4 linked regions of the Homo sapiens genome follow. The protein of the gene in region 1 purifies or fractionates together with the protein of each later gene. This does not show direct contact. Each region holds a gene or a part of one and is shown on either strand. Other genes may lie near its edges.

Region 1 (3,613 bases):
AGGGCCCAAGCCCAGCAGCCCTCAGGTTCAGGCTGTTCCTACGGCCCAGCCTGACTGCCGGACCTGGAGGAGGGGCAGCCATCCCTGGGCTTCATATGTGCAGTGAGTGTGAGTAGGCAGGCATATGTGCTACAGGTGACCTTCGCATTGGGCAATCCTAGTCAAATGCTTGTTAAGCAACAATCCGTAGTAACCCTGATCAAGGACACAACATAGCTATTTACAGGAGAGGAGCTCTGAGGAGAAATGTTTCTTGCCCACTGGCCTCAGTCCAGGCACATTCACACACATTACCTGCAACTGCAGCAGGCTGCAAGGGGGCTGGGGGTTTCAGCCCCATTTATCAATGTGGAAGTTGCCTCCCAAAGGCCCGGGCAGATCACACAGCTATAGTTAAGTGGAAGGACTCGGCTACAGAACGTGGAGCGGGGACTTTGGCTGAGTTGAGGTCTCTGGCTCAGGAGGGTCAAGGCAGACCTCTATCGGGAGTCCCCTTTCCTAAACCGGCCAAACACAAACTCTTCCTCAAGTGCTACCTTGACCTCAGGGTTGCAACGGGGAGCTATTAAACGCAGGACAGGGGTGCCATAGGTAAACCCCAACGCTGGGGCGCCAGAAGTGAGGGGGACCAGACAGCCCAGGCAGGGGGTCGCGGGCTTTATACTTTCCCAGGGCTCTGCCTGTGGGAGCCGTGTGCTGCTGCAAGGGATTCTGGGAAGTGTAGGCTTGGCGCTCTCAGTGCATTCTGGGAGATGCAGTCTCCAAGGCACACAGACCTTGCCAGTTGACATGTGTTGCAGTTCAGTTTACCGAGATAATTTAATCACAACCTCAAACTCAGGAAAGGGCACCCCAGCAGACTGTAACAGGGACAACCCTGGAGCTGAGCCTGAGAATCCTGTGCTGTGGATCCAGCTTCCTGTCATGCTGCCAGCAGTGCAGGCACAGGGTCCACAGCTGCCAGTTAGAGATCCTGGCTCTGCCTGACCCCATCATGCTCCTTCTTCTCTGTCTTTTCCATCCTGTGACCTAGGAGCCTGCCAGATGTGTCTGCTACAGACTTTGAGAAGGTTGATCTGACCCAGTTCAAGTGGATCCACATTGAGGTAAGCCCTGCCTTACCTGTGTTTCAAGGGGCTCAACCTGCCAGCCTCCTCCACATGTTCTGCCTCCTTGGTTTCTTTGAATCATGAAGTACCTTAGAGATAAATGAACCCAACCCCCTCATTCTCTCTCCATCTTTCCTTATGTCTTCAGGTGAGAAAACTAAGGCCCAGAAAGATTAGATGACTTACTCAAGGTCACACAGCAGAACGTAAGCACAGCTGGCTCCAGGCAAAGTCCTGTGCTTTCTGTGCTACGGGCTGCCCCATTGCCTCCAACTCTGCCTCTGGCGGATGTCTGACTGCTTAGGGCCTGACCCATTACCTCTGGGGAAGCAGGAAGGACAGGGCCTGACTCAGCTCCCAAATAAAGGGAACTAGAGCCTTTACTCCAAGAGAGGTTTTGGAGTCTGGGTGGAAGGAAATCCTGAGAAGTCCTGAGTTCTAGCTCCATCATTTAACCTATGGTAGGTCTTTCACAGTATCTTTTATTCTTTAGTCTTCTCATCTGTGGAATGGAGTAGCTGGTTGATAAGGTCTTCAAAGTCCACGACAGCTCTGAATGTTGTAATTTAGGATGGGGTTCTAGCCCAGCCTCCCCGAGGCCCTCTCCCTCCTCACCCAGAGTTTCAGCGGGGCAGGAAGAATGAGGCAGATTGGCCAGGCAGTGCCCAGCGGTCCTGAGCTGCCCTGTCCTGTACCAGGGCCGGAACGCATCGGAGCAGGTGAAGATGCTGCAGCGGATAGACGCACACAACACCAGGCAGCCTCCAGAGCAGAAGATCCGGGTGTCCGTGGAGGTGGAGAAGCCACGAGAGGAGCTCTTCCAGCTGTTTGGCTACGGAGACGTGGTGGGTGCCCCATTCAGCCTCTCTTTGCCACTTCCAGCTAATTTGGTTCTTAAAGGGAGCCAGAATCCTTTTATCCTGCCTACCACAATTGGAATAGTGGTTCCTGGTTTGGTGGTGTTTGAAGATGGGGGATGGGGGTTAAAGCAAAGAAGTAGACCCCTAGCCTTGGGCTCCAGTGCAGGCCTCAGCAGTGAGCAAGGAGTAGAATGTCTCCACCCCAGGTGGGTGCATAGGTGTAAGAATGCCCAGAGGGCTTGGGTAGGGCTTAAACAGCCACAGGGCAAGCCTGTGTGGAAGCATCTCCTCTCTGGGGCTCCCCAGTCTTTTCCTCTGCAGAATGAGGGCACACAACTGTTCTCTGAGGTTTCTTCCAACTCAGGGGTGTCTGGCAGGTTGTGGGGGCTGCTAGGGTGAGGGAAGGGTGGGAAGGAGACTTGCATGAGTCTCTTTTTGAAAAGGCTGGATGTAAATGGAATTTGGGAAGTAATCCCAGCATCATAGCAGAAGTTGGTTGGAGACCATCCAGCCAAGGTCCTCAACCTTGTGACTTGTCCTCAACCTTGGCTGCATATTAAAAAAGATGAATGCAGGCCAAGTGTAGTGGCTCACACTTGTAATCCCAGAGCTTTGGGAAGCTGAGGTAGGAGGATTGCTTGATGCCAGGAGTCCAAGACCAGCCTGGACAACATAGCAAGACCCCTGTCTCTATGAAAATAAATTAGGCCAAGAGCAGTGACTCATACCTGTAATCCCAGCACCTTGGGAGGCCAATGCAGGAGGATCACTTCAGCCAGTCATTCAAGATTGCAAGACCCTGTCTCTATACAAAAAAAAAAAAAAAAAATTCCTGGCATGGTGGTGTGCACCCATAGTCCCAGCTACTCAGGAGGCTGAGGCAGGAGGATTGCAGTGCCTGAGCCCCACCATCTTGTTTTTGATTGGCAGGGGTAGAGCCAAGGCTTCGGTGTTTTGTTTTTTGTTTTTACCAAAACTTTCTCTGGAGATTCTAAAGTGTAGGTAGTGTTGAGGGAGCCTCTTTGTTTTCCAGATGAAGAAACCATACCTAGAGGACATAGTTGTGGGAAAAACCAGCAAAACTGCTCCAGGGAGCCAGCATGGCGGTGGTAGATTCCACCCCAAGGTGGCGCTCAAGGCTTTCTGTGGGTTTTCAATCCATTGATCAGAGAACAAACGGACCAGGCCTTTTGTTTTACAATTTACAAGGCTGTATTCTATTATATATAAGCATCGATAAAAATATGCTTCTGGCCAGGTGCAGTGACTCACACCTGTAATCCCAGAAATTTTGGGAGGCTGAGGCAGGAAGATCATATGGGGCCAGGAGTTCAAGACCAGCCTCAGGGAGACCATCTTCACAAAAAATAAAGAAAAAAGAAAACCACGTTCCCGTGGGACAGTGAGATGCTACGTTGGGGATCTATGTGGACATGTTGGGGGAGTCGTGTTGTAATGGGGGCAACGCTAGGCTGCTGTTGGTGAATGACGAGTTAGAAGTGACCACCAGCTTCTCTTCCACTGCCCACAGGTGTTTGTCAGCAAAGATGTGGCCAAGCACTTGGGGTTCCAGTCAGCAGAGGAAGCCTTGAGGGGCTTGTATGGTCGTGTGAGGAAAGGGTGAGCCGGGGAAGCCAGGAAGGG
Region 2 (4,868 bases), about 81 Mb from region 1:
GCTCATGCAACTAGTCTGTGAAGCACCTGTTGAGTATCAAGGCTTTCAACGACCAATTCAAGAACAGACACTGTAATTCTGTATAGATCTCTGTATTTAGTGGGGTCACAGAAAATAGCTGAGTAGATGATTATTTACAATAAACATCCACTGATATTATCTCATTTAGTCCTCAAATAAATCTTGAATGGGTAAATATTATTATCTTCATTTTTACATTTAAGAAAACTAATTTCCCAAGATGTTAAGTGTCTTTACCAAGAATTGACAGAACTTGATTTCAATAATTTTGAATCTAAATCATTAGTATTTTCCATTGCACCACTTCTTAAAGTTTCTTAAAGCTATTGGCTGGGCGTGGTGGCTCACGCCTGTAATCCCAGCACTTTGGGAGGCCGAGGCGGGCAGATCACGAGGTCAGGAGATTGAGACCTGGCTAACACGGTGAAACCCCGTCTCTAGTAAAAAATACAAAAAATTAGCCGGGCGTGCTGGCGGGTGCCTATAGTCCCAGCTACGTGGGAGGCTGAGGCAGGCGAATGGTGTGAACCCGGGAGGCGGAGCTTGCAGTGAGCCAGAGATCGCGCCACTGCACTCCAGCCTGGGTGACAGAGTGAGACTCCGTCTCAAAAAATAAATAAAATAAATAAATAAATAAATAAATAAATAAAGTATTATGTTCCTCAGTGCTAATAAAAAAACAAAAACTCTGGGCATGGTAGCTCATGCCTGTAATCCTAGCATTTTAGCAGGCTGAGGAGGGTGGAACACTTGGGATCAGGAGTTCAAAACCAGCCTGGCCAACATGGTGAAACCCGGTTTCTACTAAAAATACAAATAATTAGCTGGCATGGTGGCAGGCGACTGTAATCCCAACTACTCCGGAGGCTGAGGCAGGAGAATCTCTTGAACCCGGGAGGCGGAGCTTGCAGTGACTTGAGATCGCACCATTGCACTCTAGTCTGGGCGACAGAGTGAAACTCCTCCTCTGTCTCAAAAACAAAAACAAAAACAAAAAAAACCCAAAAACCAAAGAAACCAAAATGTGCTAGGATTTTTTTTCCTGCTAAACTGCATTTTAAAATAGACATGCAAGGGAGAAAATGACACCATCCATATTGTGTAATAACCTGCCTGTAAGGGAAATGTGCAGCATCCCTGGGAGCACCAGGAAGCTGCAGGTGAGACTGTGTGATACTTAAACTCATGATCAGCCATGTGCACTTTGACAAATGACAGCTGTAACCAATGAAGTGCAGCAATTTTCGGTTCCCCGCATCAATCTGAGTCCCTGATGGGGTCAATGCATTATGACTTAAATGTTTTATGGTCCAGTGGGTACACCTTAGATGGCACTGTGCTCACCTTCTTCATGTCCTCATAGAAGAGATAGAGAATACGGTGTTTGTCTTTGGCTTCCCACCATCCTTTCACATGTTCATGCCAGGAGCCCCAGCACACTGGAGGATGGGATGGAAAACAGGACAATGAGTCACAGAGGTCCTATTATACCACTGAAAGGAGAATTCCTGAAGAGAAGTGAGAATGTTCCATTAAAGAAGGCAGAGCCCCTGCTGGTCAAAAGAAAAGATTCTTTCCTTCTAGGGTGTTTGGAGATTTTGAGAAACGAAGGGAAACAAAGCTAAATTCTCTCACCTTTCCCAGCCAGAAAAGTCTCAAAATACTCTTCCCATGTTCCTGGAGCAGGAAGAGCTTTATTCATTCTTTGGAAATGGTAATAGGACACCATGTTGTCCTTGGGATTTCTTGCTACATAGATTATCTGGGAATGATGAGGGGAGGGGAAGGGAAGAAGCAAAAAAACAGGAATTTTTTTTTTTTTTTTTTGCTGTTACTGCCCAGGCAAGTCATGTTAGGGTAGATACATTTCATACAGTTCATTTTTTCTGAGGCTGCATTCTTGTCATCCTGGTTATGGGAGACTTTTTTTTTTTTTTTTTTTTTTTTTTTTTGAGATGGAGTCTTGCTCTGTCACCCAGGCTGGAGTGCAATGGCACTATCTTGGCTCACTGCAACCTCTGCCTCCTGTGTTCAAGCGAGTCTCCTGCCTCAGCCTCCTGAGTAGCTTGGATTACAGGCATGTGTCACCACGTCCTGTGAATTTTGTGTTTTTGGTAGAGATGGGGTTTCGCCGTGTTGGTCAGGCTGGTCTTGAACCCCTGACCTCAACTGATCCACCCATCTCAGTCTCCCAAAATGCTGTGATTACAGGCATGAGCCAACGTGCCTGGCTAGGATTCATATTAATTTGCATATTGATTATTGTGAAGAGGTATATATATATATATTTAACAAGTGAAGTGTTTTAAGAGGAAATGGAAGACTAAGGTTGTTTTAAGGAGTACAACTCTGAATTCCTTTTGCTTTTTTACCTTACAGTTTTTCTCTAGCAAGGATGGTGGCAGCAAGTGAAAGGGAAGATGTGTTTTCAGGATCCGTGGTGAGGGCATTGCATGAGCTTGTTCCAAACCTGCAAAACTGGTTTTCGATCAATTTCTACGATTTTTTTTTTATCTATTTGCTTCCAAGTCTTGCTGCTTCCATTATTACTACTACAATTCAAAGCATCTATAAGAACATTGTAACTGTAGATCTGGTGTGAGAGAATACGTCTAGCCTATGAATAGATGTTTTGACTAGAACAATTCCTAACCATAACAGTCATCCAAATAAATAAGAACCTAAAAAATTCAAACCCTTTCACCAGGATTATCTTACTTGAGCTTATTCTTTTGAAGTAAAATTAATTTCTAACTAGAGAAACAAAATTTAACTCACTTTTGTACAAACAGTAATTCCATTAGAAAATGTCTGGAGTATAACAATGGCCAGACACAGTTAAAAAAAGACAAAACCATGAAACTTACCAATAATTGTTTGAAAGCCTATAATTTCGAAAGGTGCAAAGACAGTAAAAATCCTAAGTGCATTTTAGGACTGTAGTGAAGTGTGGCTATTTATACTCACCAGATCCTAAGGATGGGATTTTCATTTCGAGGAAAGGAAATCGTTGATGAGTCGGTGCCCGTTTACTTTTCTCCACATCACCTTCATTTTGTATTAATTCCACTATCTCCTGAGTCCATGTTGTTCCTTACGTGCACGTAAAATGAAGATGAATAGACATCTAGTATAGTACATTCCTTAAAATATGATCAAATACTTGTTAGAACATCTATGTCTTTTGTTTTGTTTTGTTTTGTTTTGTTTTTTGAGACAGGGTCTTGCTCTGTATCAAGGCTGGAGTTCAATGGTGCAATCTTGGCTCACTGCCTCCTGGGTTCAAGCGATCCTCTCGCCTCAGCCTCCTGAGTAGCAGGGGTTACATGCATACACAATCACCCCTGGCTAATTTTTATACTTTTTGTAGAGACGGCATTTTACCATGTTGCCCAGGCTGATCTGGAACTCCTGAGCTCAAGTGATCTGCTTGCAAGTGATCTGCTCGCCTCGGCCTCCTAAAATGCTGGGATTATAGGTGTGAGCCACCATGCCTGGACCATCTATGTGAATTTAAAAGCTAGGTTTTAAATGGGATTCAGAAGATAGCATTCCTTATTTATATCTTATTATCATAATATGATTTTAAAAAAATACTCCAATTTTGAATGGACATTAGACTGATAAATATACATTTATTTTTTTCTGTCACAACTATTAATTTGGATTGTTATTATTGTTCTATTTATTTAGCTGTATTGTCCTTAGAAAGGACATTCTCCCCAAATTGTGATCTGCTATAGAGAAATGACTACATGATTTTCAAACTCTCTTTTTCCCAGTTGCATAGCGTAGGAGACACTTAGTATTTGTTGGCTGAATGAGTGAACCATTAGGGCTTGAACTTGATATTGACCATTAGCACTTAGTATTCAATTTTTCGCCTTTCTCTGTTTCCCCCATATCTCATGGGCTGAAAGGCTGTAAAAGGCCTTCCCTAAACTCCTTTGCCACTAAGATTCTGAAGGCTATTTAGATCCCTCCAGTGAGATGCATTAGCCTGAGTTTTGGAAGGCAGTGGGGAGATAGAAGTCATCCTTCCTGAGGTGGTGGCTGCTGATAGTAGCCCCAGCAGATAGAAATTTTGCAGAGACCATTCCACGTTCCATGGCCCAGTGCCCTAGACCCAACCACTGCCACTGTGGCCATAGGTAGAATGGTATCCCCCAGCTTCAGTCTGTCTGTGTCTTGCACTGATCCTGACTGATACAGTGATATTGTGCTATCAACATAATCTTCACCCTTTGATGAAGATCTGTTGCACCAGATGTTCTGGCAAAATCCAGGTTAGGAGGATGTTGAGTTATTTTAGGATGGCTTTTTTTATTTTTTATTTTTCCAGAGACAGGGTCTTGCTCTGTTGCCCAGGCTGGAGTACAGTGGTGGGATCCTAGCTCAGTGCAGCCTCCAACTCCTGGGCTCAATGGTCCTCTTGCTTCAACCTCCCAAATAGCTAGGACTGTGAGTGCACACCACCATGCCTGGCTAATTTTTATTTTTTTTTTGTACATAGGAGTCTCCCTATGTTGCCCAGGCTGGTCTCAATCTTCTAGCCTCAAAAGATCCCCCTGTCTTGGCCTCCCAAAGTGATGGGATTACAGGTGTGAGCCACCATGCCTAGCCAGGATGGCTTTCTGAATCCTGATCTAGGTTGATCTTTCCTGTATTATCTGGCCGAAACTCTATAGATTCCTTTTCCCATATTCTCAATTTAGTGCTTTTAAAGGCCTAGAATAAGGGCATAGGTTAGAAAAAAATTAAATTACATTTTATATTTTATAGTAGTTGGTCTCCTGTATTTTCTGGCAGCAACTTTTATTACAGGACAAAGGGCCAAGATATCTTTA
Region 3 (5,504 bases), on another chromosome or scaffold:
TATTCAGCACTTAATAGTTCTGTGCTCATTGTGTAATTGGAAATCAAAGGAAGCAGACAGTGAAAAATTAGGGAAAGACTTCACAAAGGAGGTGATATTCTAGCTGAAAGTTGAAACTTAGGCAACACATAGACTGACAGTAAATGAGATTTAACAGATATAAAGGAATCTGATGGGAGTACGGGTATAAGGACAGGCATGAGAAAACCTGCTGAGAAGGGAATTAACAGGAATGACTTGGGCAACTGTAAAGATCTATGACATTAATGATGGAGAATGAGATACAATCTTGGCTAAGGAAGGTGTAGTCTCATTACAGAATGTCTTAGAAGTCAGACAGAGGTATTTAAATTTGATTTTATACATACCACTTAATAACAAAGGGAAGAGACTGCATAAGATTATTCTGGCATCTATATTCAGCCATACAGAATAGACAGGCAATCAGAGATATTTGGAAAGAAACTGCAAGCTTAAAAAGAGACTGCAGGAAAAGAGAAGAAATCATCAAAGAATATAAGGTTTCTACCCTGGGAACTATAAAAATGGAGATGCCACGAAATAAACAGGGAAGCTGAGAAATAAAGGATCGAGAATGGGCAGGGGATATTTTTGGACATGCTAGATTTAAGCATATCCAAGTTGAGCTATCCTAATACTATTCTATTGCATAATATCAGGTTGAAGCCAAGGTCCAGGGTGGGAATACATGGAGTGATTCATATCAATGCCTTATATTTATTTAGGGCTTTATCACAAAAAATTCATGTATTATTAATTTTGAGTCTCAAAACCTAGAAAGGTAGAAGAACAGAAATTACCACTTTCATCTCACCAATAAATAAATTAATGCTCAGAATTGGGGCCATGCCCGGTGGCTTATGCTTGTAATCCCAGTACTTTCAGAGGCCAAAGAGGGAGGGTTGCTTGAGTCCAGGAGTTCAATATCAACCTGGGCAACATAGTGAGACCCAGTTTCTACAAAAAAAAAAAAAAAAAAAATTAGCGGGGCATAGTGATGTATGCCTGCAGTCCCAGCTACTTGGGAGGCTGAGGCAGGAGAACTGCTTGAGCCCAGGAAGTTGAGGCAGCACTGAGCCATGATCATGCCACAACACTCAGCTTGGGCAACAGAGTAAGACCCTGTCTCAGAAAAAGAGAAAAGGAAAAAAAAAAAAAAAAAAAAAGAAATGAATGCTCAGAATTAATGTAACTTGCCCCAAGTCAGCTTGTTAGCAGCAGAGCCAGGAGAATTCTGGCTCTAGATCTACCCGTCATCAAATGCTGAAAGCTTCCAAGAAGAAGAAAGCTCAAGGCTTTTCCTCCAAAAGTAGTCATTAGCACAGAGGCAACAGTTGAGGCCATGAGACTGTGTAACTAATTCTTTGAAGGAGAACAGAAAAAGAATTCCTAGCAGATACCCATAATTAATTAAAAAGTGAAAGGAAGAGAGCCTAGTAAGAGACACCAAGTTGACAAGAATATGCAACAGGGGAGGGGGAAAAAAAAATCAAAACCAGAAAAGTGCAGAGTCAGGAAAGCCAAAAATGGAGTAGGTACTCAGTGATTTTAAATGCCAAAGTTGGAAAAAGGCGCGGATTTGGCATGAAGATATCACATTGTATGTGTGAAATTTTTTTCAAAAATTTAATTCTTAAAACATTAGCGAAATTTAAAAATTCCTTTGAAATGTTTATGACTAGCAACATCCATTTGGTACATTAATAAGGGGGACTGGATTTTTCATATATTACACTTCTTCAATGTTGAAAAATTACAAAGGCTAAGAAAATAAAACATCTATTAACTAGCCTTGTAGAAAAGTAATTTGATCTTTTAAATACAGATCAACTATATATAGTTCAACATAACCAGATGAGTTATTGCACTTTTTATTTGCTAAGAAAATATTTTCAGCTTTTACCTACTCCACATTTGAGAAGTTTTTGATATACATAAACAATAGTTTACTATACTTTTTGCTGCAATCTATTTTGTCAATTCAAAGGTTCAACAAAGGAAAAGAGACAGTTATACAAAGGCAAAACTACATGCATACCCAAAGCAAAATTACATATGAAGTAATTTACCAAGTTTTAATAGTAAATGTTATTAGAAATAATATGGGCAATCTTCTGATCATATATTTAACTTCAATCTTAAGTGGGAATTAGTACGCAGAGAAAAGAGAACTATTTTATCCTTATCCTAACACGAGGGATATAAAATATTTTTAATTCAAATCAACATTAATTAGTGATATATGGAGAACACAGCACCATCTTTGCACAAATCAAGTTTTAGACCCTTGGAAATAATATTTATCTTAGAGCTTTAAAACATTTAACAGGACTGCCAATGAATTAAAAGTTTAAAAGACGCAAATGAGCAAATCAAAACAACTTGCTACTGACCTTGTTCAAGTCTGAAGAGGGTCTTTTCCAGTTTCTCCATTTCGTTCAGAAGTAAAATTCGAATCTGTTTACTGTGTCCCATTTTGGCTTCTAGAGGATTTGAAATCTTTCATAAGAATTAAAAGAACTCCACAGTCGAATGAGTTACCCCTATGAAACAAAAAGGAGTTAAAATATCGAAAATAACTATTGCCTTAAACTCTCCAGAGCTGACAGCGGCACTTACATGTTCGAAGTGTGTTTTATGCCTAGCAGAGCAATGAAAGAGAATGAATCTTATAACTATTAAGATTCGAGAAGGCAAATTAATAGTTGTTTCCTGCCTTTGAGCACAACGAATAAGACCGAAATAAAAATGCTGTATTACAGATTCTTACAATTAAAAAATTAAAAACCTAGACCATTCTCAGAGAAAAGCAATACACTTAGGAAAGCCTGAAGTCAGGGGGACATTCCCAGCCCCAAGCCACAGGGCTCTGGAGACTCCGAATGGCACTTCTGCTTACAAGAGATTAGTCTGCTCAAAGATAACAGGTGGGCAATCTCCCCATTCCCAAATTCGGGTCGCCAGCCACCAATGGGGAGATGAGAACAGAGGGAAGCAGTTGTTGCCTCTGGAATAGCTGCCGTAGACAGAAGATGTACAGAGCGAGCTATAGATAGAAAGAATGCGTTTCCCCGCGAGGCCAGCGGCATTCCTAGCACTTACGCCGAGGGAGTTATACGTGCGGCTTCTGGGGCACTGCAGGACCCGCGACTCTGGTGCTACGGTCGGGGGGAGGGGACGGGGAGAAACAGAAGGGGAAGGGCTGGCTGCCCAGCCTCGCACAGAAGCCGCAGCCCAAGGAGGGCCGGGCGCCGTGAAGGGCAAAGGGAGGGGCGGCGAGCGACCGGGGCAGCGCCGAGGCAGCTGGGTGAGAAGCAGGCAGAGTCTCAGCGACTTCGCCTCGCGCGGGTTCCTGGGCGCACCCGGTACCCAACCTGGCCGTGCGCGCACTCGCCCCAGGTGGGAGCGGACCGTACCTCTGGCCCACTTCCGGGAGGCTCGACCCGCCCGCCCCGACCGCTAGTCTCGCGAGAGCGTGGGCACCGCACCGTCTCAGTCGGCTCCGGGCCGGGGGACCTGGAGCCTGCTGCGGCTGAGGCCGGGAGCGGCGCTTTCTCCTTGCCCTGGGGAAGGTGCACCGGCCAAGGCGCGGCCTTCCTTTAACAGCCTGCGAGCTCACAGTTGCACATTAAAATCCCGCGGTACCGGCTGCGAGCTAGGTTGAGCTGCACAGTAGGATCTTTTGCTGGGAAGGGCTGAATGGTGAGGGGCAAACGACCTGGCTTCTGGTGTCTTTTGTGCCACCACGTGTTTTGTTTCTTTGTTTTGATAATTTTTACTTGGCCTAAGTTCTCAGAGTCCTGATTTCTAAGTGTCTAAAATAAGGGGCCTGGCTACAGCCTTGACATTCCAGCCAACACGTGTCCATCACTTCTAGTGCTAACAGACAGGACACATGTTCCTGAATGCAGACCCAGTAGGTAAGGTGTGGCCAGTCTGCAAACCATCGAGAGTGCAAACACCACTGATACTTAACGGTGTCCGGGTGTACCTCATGTACACTAGATAGACCCGGAGATCGTCTGAGATTAAGCTGCACTTATGTTAGGCCAGTAACTCAGAACTTTTTGCAGATGCTTAAGGAGATTTAATGCCTGAGGGTAAAGGAAAACCCATCTTCCAGGGCTTTTGGAGGGCTCCTAATGGTTATGAGAAAATGGACAGAAGATTTGGTTAACTAAGACTTGTGGCGTGTGGAGAAGATTCTTGCATTCTTTATTGTGGAATGACTGTAGGTCCAAAGAGGATATAAGTTAAAAAAAAAAACCCCATACTGAAGTATTTGTTTATTTCTGTAGATTTCTGAGAATGGCTAGTTGCAAATGGTCCGTAACTGACTTTGGGAACCCACAGCTCATTTTCTGGCCCCTACTATTTGCCAGGCACATAAGGTGCTGGGAATGCAGCAATAAAACAGTCACTGCCCTCAAGGAACTCCTACATTTTATTGGTGGGAGACAGATAAATTAAATAAATTATACAGGATATAATATATCCTATATAATAAGAAGGATATGTTATATCCTATATATAATAGGAAGGGGGAAGTGTGGAAGAGTAAGCAGAGAGAGGTTTGCATTTCTAAATATAACGTTCAGTAAAGTGATGCCAAACTGCGAGAAAGAAGAAGTCTAAGGTAGAGGGTTACATGTAGAGGTATAGGAAGTACAAAGGCCATGAGGCAGGAGCATACTTGGTGAACCGAAGAAGATCACCATAGCTGAGTGAAGAAGAGAGTGGTAAGAGATTAGGACAGACAGATGGGGCAGGAGAAGGGATCAGGAGCACAGACGGGTGACCAGATCTTTTAAGGCTTTGTAGGCCATTGCAAGGACTTGGGCTTTTAAACTTTGGAAAAAAAGCCATGGAGATTTTGAACAGAGGAGTGACATAATCTGATTGACCTTTTAAAAGGATCGCTCCGCAACTTTATGGGAAATAGTTGAATAAACTGTAGAGTGTAGCAAGGAAGGAAGCAAGGAGACCAGTTAGAAAGCTATTTTAGTTATTCAAGCAAGAGAAAGTGACTTGTGTGTGTTTTCTCTGTGTCGGGGGGTTGGGGGTGATGGGGGGGAGGTGGTATAGCAGGTGGTGTAGTTGCTGAATTCTGGACTATTTTGAAGATAGAACCTACAGGATTGGTGGAGAAAGGAGTCAAGGATGACTCCAAGGTTTTTGGCCTGAATGAGCAGAAAGCACTGTCCAATAGAAATATTAAGTGCCACATAGGTCATTTAAAATTTTCAAGTAGCCACATTAAAAAAACTTTTTTAAATACAAAAATTAGCCAGGCATGGTGGCACATGCCTGTAGTCCCAACTACTGTGGAGGCTGAGGCAGGAGAATCGCTTCAACCTGGGAGGTGGAAGTTGCAGTGAACCCAGATCATGTCACTGCACTTCAGCCTGGGTGACAGAGCGAGACTGTCTCAAAAAAAAAAAAAAAAAAAAAAGAAAAGAAAAGAAAGTTTTGAAAAAGGTAAT
Region 4 (4,868 bases), on another chromosome or scaffold:
GAGGAGATGCCCGGAGCTGCAGAATTCGCTGTGGCCGGGCTCTGACATTGAAACAGGGACCCCGTGCTTTGACGCCGGGCACCCTGACCTCAGTCCCGGGCTGCCACGCCGCCTGGGGGTCTGTCTGCAGGGCCACTCTCTCCACTCCTCCGCACAGCGTGAGAAGGAAGCTGAGGTCCAGGGAGCCTCTGGGGCTTGCTGGAGGTCCCTGGCCAGCACCTCAGGGACCTGGGTGGGCTTGCGTGCTTCCTGCACCCATTGCAGATTCCTAGTGTGCTTATGGCAGGGAGGAAGCCTGAGGGGCTGCTGCCGCAATGCAAACCTGCCCTGGCCACCTGTCGCCCCCCAGAACAGGGCCTAGCTTCCTCTCCCTGGCACTTAGAGGGCTTTACCACCTAACGAGACTTAGGCTCAGCATTCTCTGCCCCTCATCACAACCTTGAATGATGGTGAGGGTTGATGTGAACTCTTCGCCAAAATCAGTCACATCCACCCCCACTGACACCACCAGCAGTGAGGACACCTGTCGCTCCTTCATGTCACTGCCAGGTCTATCGCCAGAAGAAGGGGCCACCTCTGCCCTCCTGCTAGTTCACACCTCCTGGTTAATAGTTCACACCTCCTGGTTAACCTGGGTCTAAAGAGGGGCCACCCTTCTCCTGCAGTGTCCACACTGTTTCCTATACGCTGGTTGACAGTGTTACACATTTTTACATTTTACAGGTTCCCAAATCAAATTCACAAGTTCATATTTTAAATTAACAGCAGGTCCTCAGAGGTAAAGGTTTGGGTATGAAATTTACTGAATCATTTTTGAACCCTTATCTTATTACACAAGCTTTGAATTTTAGTGCAAAGTATTTTTAGATGTAAATTGAGCTGCTTTTATAATTGAGTGAAAATGACCCATCTTGTACTACTGAAAATAAGCCATCTCTTCTGAGCTAATCTGTTTGAGAAAGCACAGGATTGTTTAAATGGAAAAACAGGGCCTCCGATCTGGAATCAAACCATGTGCAAAATGGGTCACACAGCAATGCCTGGAAACGGCTGCTCACTGTACACCATGTCTCCCCCGTCACAGCTGCCAGCTCCTTCCCAATTGCAGGTGGAGCCAGGACTGGGCTTGCAAATACAGCTCAACTGATTGATTGTGCAAAGTTTCACCAGCCCCCATATGTTGTTTCTGTTTTTATAGAAGAAACCATTTTCGCAGTGATTTAAGACGGTCTCTGCCTTTTTCACGGGGCTGACACTTACACCCCCTGTGCTGGAGTATCAGGCCACAGTCCCAAAGAGGTCCGGGAGCCACTGTATTCGTTTCCGTGCCCTCTGGGAAAATGAACCAATGCCAATTTCACGTTAGAATTTCCTTGCTGAAGCAGTAAAATTAATTTTTAAAACTCTCAACCCTTGGGTACAATACATTTTCCATATTCCGTGTGACTCATAATGTACTCCTGCTGTTGCTGACGGGCAGTGGTCGGTCAGAGCAGAAGCTCAGCTGTGATTGCTGGGGGAGTTCTGAGCTCCATGAGCCACTCTGGCCACGACACCATCTTTACTTGAAAGAAAAACTGACAGACAAATGGCATTTAATTGGATTTAGGTATCTGGCAGATATTTCCCAGAAAAGGAACAAACTGAGCCTCTTACTTCCAGAAACAGCTGACATTATTTATTGCCAATGGTATACATTTGAGCTTTTAAGCAAAAATCAGAATTTTGAAAAACTTTCTCCTATCACCATGACAACTTCCTCATAATGAGTTTTCTGATGAGATGGATGGTGATATTAAGTGATTTTTTGATACTATATAATGTAATGTGTCAAAAATTTGAATTTCTGCAGAACTCTGTGAACCAACATTTTTCAAGTGAACATTCATTTTTCCATGAAAAACCACATGTTCAAAGTGAGAGAGAACAGCGGATTTAACTGCCACAGAGCCCAAAAGTCTATTCATGAGGCTTCAGATTCCATGTTATAACCAGCCTTTAAGAAGCTACCACTTGTTGAGTTTTGGTGTAGTAGCAAAGAATGTTCATAGTTAGTTAGCTGAAAAAGGTACTAAAATCCTTTTCCCTGTTTCAACTATAAAATGCGTGAGGCCAGATTTTCTTGATACAGTTCAACTGAAACAACACATTTCCATAGACTACATCGGAAGCAGACGCAAGGTCCCTAGCTGTCTTCTATTAAGCCAGACACTGACAGGATTTGTGAAAATGTACAACAATGCTACTCTCTCAGTAAATTATTTTTTCATTTTGGAAGATGCTTATCTTCATAAAATTATTTATGATAACATGCAATGGATTTATATGTTATTTTTAATGAATTATACATGTTATAAATTTCTCACTTTTAATTTCCAGTAGAGTAAATATCAATAGACATTGTTATACAAAAAGCCTCTTTGGGGTCGGTACTTGTTAAGAGCGTAAAGGGGTCTCCAGTAATGCATTTGAGGCCTGCTAGTCCAGGCTGGTCTTGAGCTGCCCTTGAAATCTTTGAAAATGGAGCTGTGATTTTTTTTTTCTTGCAAAACTGGGAGCTGGGCTGGCTCCAGCCGGCTTGCTTTTTGAGGAGTGACCATTTCTGCACCATTTGCTCTACAGGCAGCCACTGGGGAGAATGCCTGCTGCGTTGCGTCTGCGTTTCACACCAGGCCGTTGGGGAGAGATTGTGAGCGCCTTCAGGTCAGGATTGGGGTCTTTGCATCAATGGCTGGAGCCTCAGCGCCCACTCCACACAGTAACAGCTCAGGAAAGGCCTGCTGGTTGATCCCAAATCCACGTAGAACGGTTCCAACTGCAGCGGGGAAGATGGGCTGGTTTAAAATAAAAAACCAGGTATTGTTTCACTGGTGCCAGAACACCCAGCTCTTCCTGGTATTATGGGGTCTGCAGACCAGGTGGACCCCGGGAATAGGCAGGGGCTATAGTCGCATTTTCAGAAGGTGATCTGGAGCCATGGAAAATGCCCTACTCTCTGGCAGTTCTACCAGCCACCCTCAGACCACAGCTTCCCTGAAGGCTGTGCAGCTGTGGCCTCTAGGGAAGGCCTGTGTGGTCAGGTTTTTCCTTTGTGTTAATTTCCAGGCCGGGAGCTGACTAACTGCACAGGTCTACCCACAGCCACATGAGATGAAGTCAGGTGCAACGATATTTTCCCTAAGTGACTAGAGTTAGTGCCACAAGCAAACGAATGAATTCCCAGGAAGCTCATCTTCTCACATTGGTCCACAACAAGCCGACATCAAAAACAAGCATCTGATCCAAGGAGAAGAGGGTCCACGACTCTACCAGCCAGAATGTAGCGGCTTCCAGGGTGACCGTGGGTATTGAGGGTGCGTGCGAGGGTGGGAGCAGCCAGTACCAGGTGCAGGCAGTAGGGGGTGCACTATCTGTGGCGAATTTAGGAATCATAACCGACTAGAAGTCAGTTTGCTTATTACCACCGTGTGCCGGTATCTCTGAACAAAGTCAGCAATAACATATTCCTCCTCCGAAAATCTGTTGTTGATTGAAGTTTAAAAAATTGCTGTGGCTACGGTTGCGTTTTAATCACACAAACAAAAGCTTCAAATTCGCATATCGTTGTTACTTATCCTGAAAGTAACATTACATGGACGTTAGCAATGACCCGACACAAAATCTACTACCCACATTCCTTCTGAGAATCGCTCTGACAGTCAGATCCTGTGGGCTGGCTCTGGGCACAGTCGGGGCCTCCAGGGCCCATGATTTCCTACCTCCCGGTGTCGAAACAGAGGACCCAAAATAAAACACGAGAGTGCGGGATGGTCAAAACGAAGACGCGGAACCTGCGTTCCTTCACTTCCCTCATTCCATGTGAACACTTGGAGTTACTGTGTCCAAAATGCTTTTGTTCTGCAGACATCTGAAAGCCACAAGAATCCACCCTGAAGAACTGAACACACAGTGGGTGTTGTGATTGCTGGAATTTACTGTGAAATGGGATTTTTAAGAATCTCTGCCAAATGATACCGTATTAAAGACTTTTCCTAAGTATCTGTGTATCTGTTGCCTCACGAGATTGGAGCTCTTCAAAATCAAAGTTAACAGATAGTATTCTTGGACCAACTATGAGTGAAGACAGCTGGCAACTCTGCCTACTGAACATACATTAGTAAAGAAGATCAATTTAAATGAAACCATTGTCAAACGTGTAGATGCTAAGACCCAAAGCCAGAAACAAACATTCATTCCACCATCTATTACCCCAAGAGACCCATAGGGAGGCATGTTTTTTCTATTAAAAAAAAACAAAAAACCCTTTTTATGATTAGTGTCATTTTCTGCTTAGTTCTAAACAGTTTTGTGGTTTAGAGGAGGGATGGGAACTGCTCATCCTCTCCAGGTATGAAATAAACTAGGCGTGCTAGAGAGCGCGGCGAGCTGCACCAGCGCCACCCTGAACAGCAGCTGACACTAGGGCTCAGTGTCAGGAAGGCAGCAGCAAGTGGTGGGGCCTACCGCAAACCAAACTGGAGAATGGGTGACACCAGGGGCAGGCCCACTGGCTGCAGGGGAATGCTGCCAGGCGGGAACAGAACGCCAGCACTGGCAGACCTTCTGAGTGCACAAAAGGCCGGAAATCCAGGCTTTGATGAGAATCCTTCCTGGTTTCAAATATTGGTAGCTAATTCAAATTTTAAAAATGCCAGGCCTCCGTGAGCCTTGCAGGCTGCTAGTTTGCAGTGTCTGCTGCGGATGCACTCCCTGCTCCTTCCAGACCTCCTGAGGTATGTACTTCCCAGTCTGCTCCCTCCCTGTCCTTCCCAGCCCAGGCCTGAGCACAGAGGCTGCTCACACGGTGTGTAGGATGAATGGATGGAGAT

Evidence for each region.
Region 2: the proteins of KHK (region 1) and SULT1C4 fractionate together in Homo sapiens (co-fractionation; one large-scale study listed by BioGRID). This does not show direct contact.
Region 3: the proteins of KHK (region 1) and AGL fractionate together in Homo sapiens (co-fractionation; one large-scale study listed by BioGRID). This does not show direct contact.
Region 4: the proteins of KHK (region 1) and NPEPL1 fractionate together in Homo sapiens (co-fractionation; one large-scale study listed by BioGRID). This does not show direct contact.

The regions. Positions count from the first base shown.
Region 1 is NC_000002.12:27,095,696-27,099,308, forward strand, and holds part of KHK (ketohexokinase), read left to right. Parts: intron 1-1,033; coding exon 1,034-1,106; intron 1,107-1,807; coding exon 1,808-1,954; coding exon of another isoform or gene 1,955-2,368; exon of another isoform or gene 2,369-2,383; intron 2,384-3,500; coding exon 3,501-3,589; intron 3,590-3,613. UniProt on the Homo sapiens protein: Catalyzes the phosphorylation of the ketose sugar fructose to fructose-1-phosphate.
Region 2 is NC_000002.12:108,380,008-108,384,875, reverse strand, and holds part of SULT1C4 (sulfotransferase 1C4), read right to left. Parts: intron 3,165-4,868; exon of another isoform or gene 3,115-3,164; coding exon 2,989-3,114; intron 2,492-2,988; coding exon 2,394-2,491; intron 1,784-2,393; coding exon 1,657-1,783; intron 1,461-1,656; coding exon 1,366-1,460; intron 1-1,365. UniProt on the Homo sapiens protein: Sulfotransferase that utilizes 3'-phospho-5'-adenylyl sulfate (PAPS) as sulfonate donor to catalyze the sulfate conjugation of phenolic compounds.
Region 3 is NC_000001.11:99,848,035-99,853,538, reverse strand, and holds the start of AGL (glycogen debranching enzyme), read right to left. Parts: upstream 3,179-5,504; 5' UTR 3,124-3,178; exon of another isoform or gene 2,921-3,123; intron 2,919-2,920; exon of another isoform or gene 2,641-2,918; intron 2,565-2,640; 5' UTR 2,497-2,564; coding exon 2,415-2,496; intron 979-2,414; exon of another isoform or gene 870-978; coding exon of another isoform or gene 836-869; intron 1-835. UniProt on the Homo sapiens protein: Multifunctional enzyme acting as 1,4-alpha-D-glucan:1,4-alpha-D-glucan 4-alpha-D-glycosyltransferase and amylo-1,6-glucosidase in glycogen degradation.
Region 4 is NC_000020.11:58,701,962-58,706,829, reverse strand, and holds part of NPEPL1 (probable aminopeptidase NPEPL1), read right to left. Parts: intron 1,333-4,868; exon of another isoform or gene 1,261-1,332; intron 1-1,260. UniProt on the Homo sapiens protein: Probably catalyzes the removal of unsubstituted N-terminal amino acids from various peptides.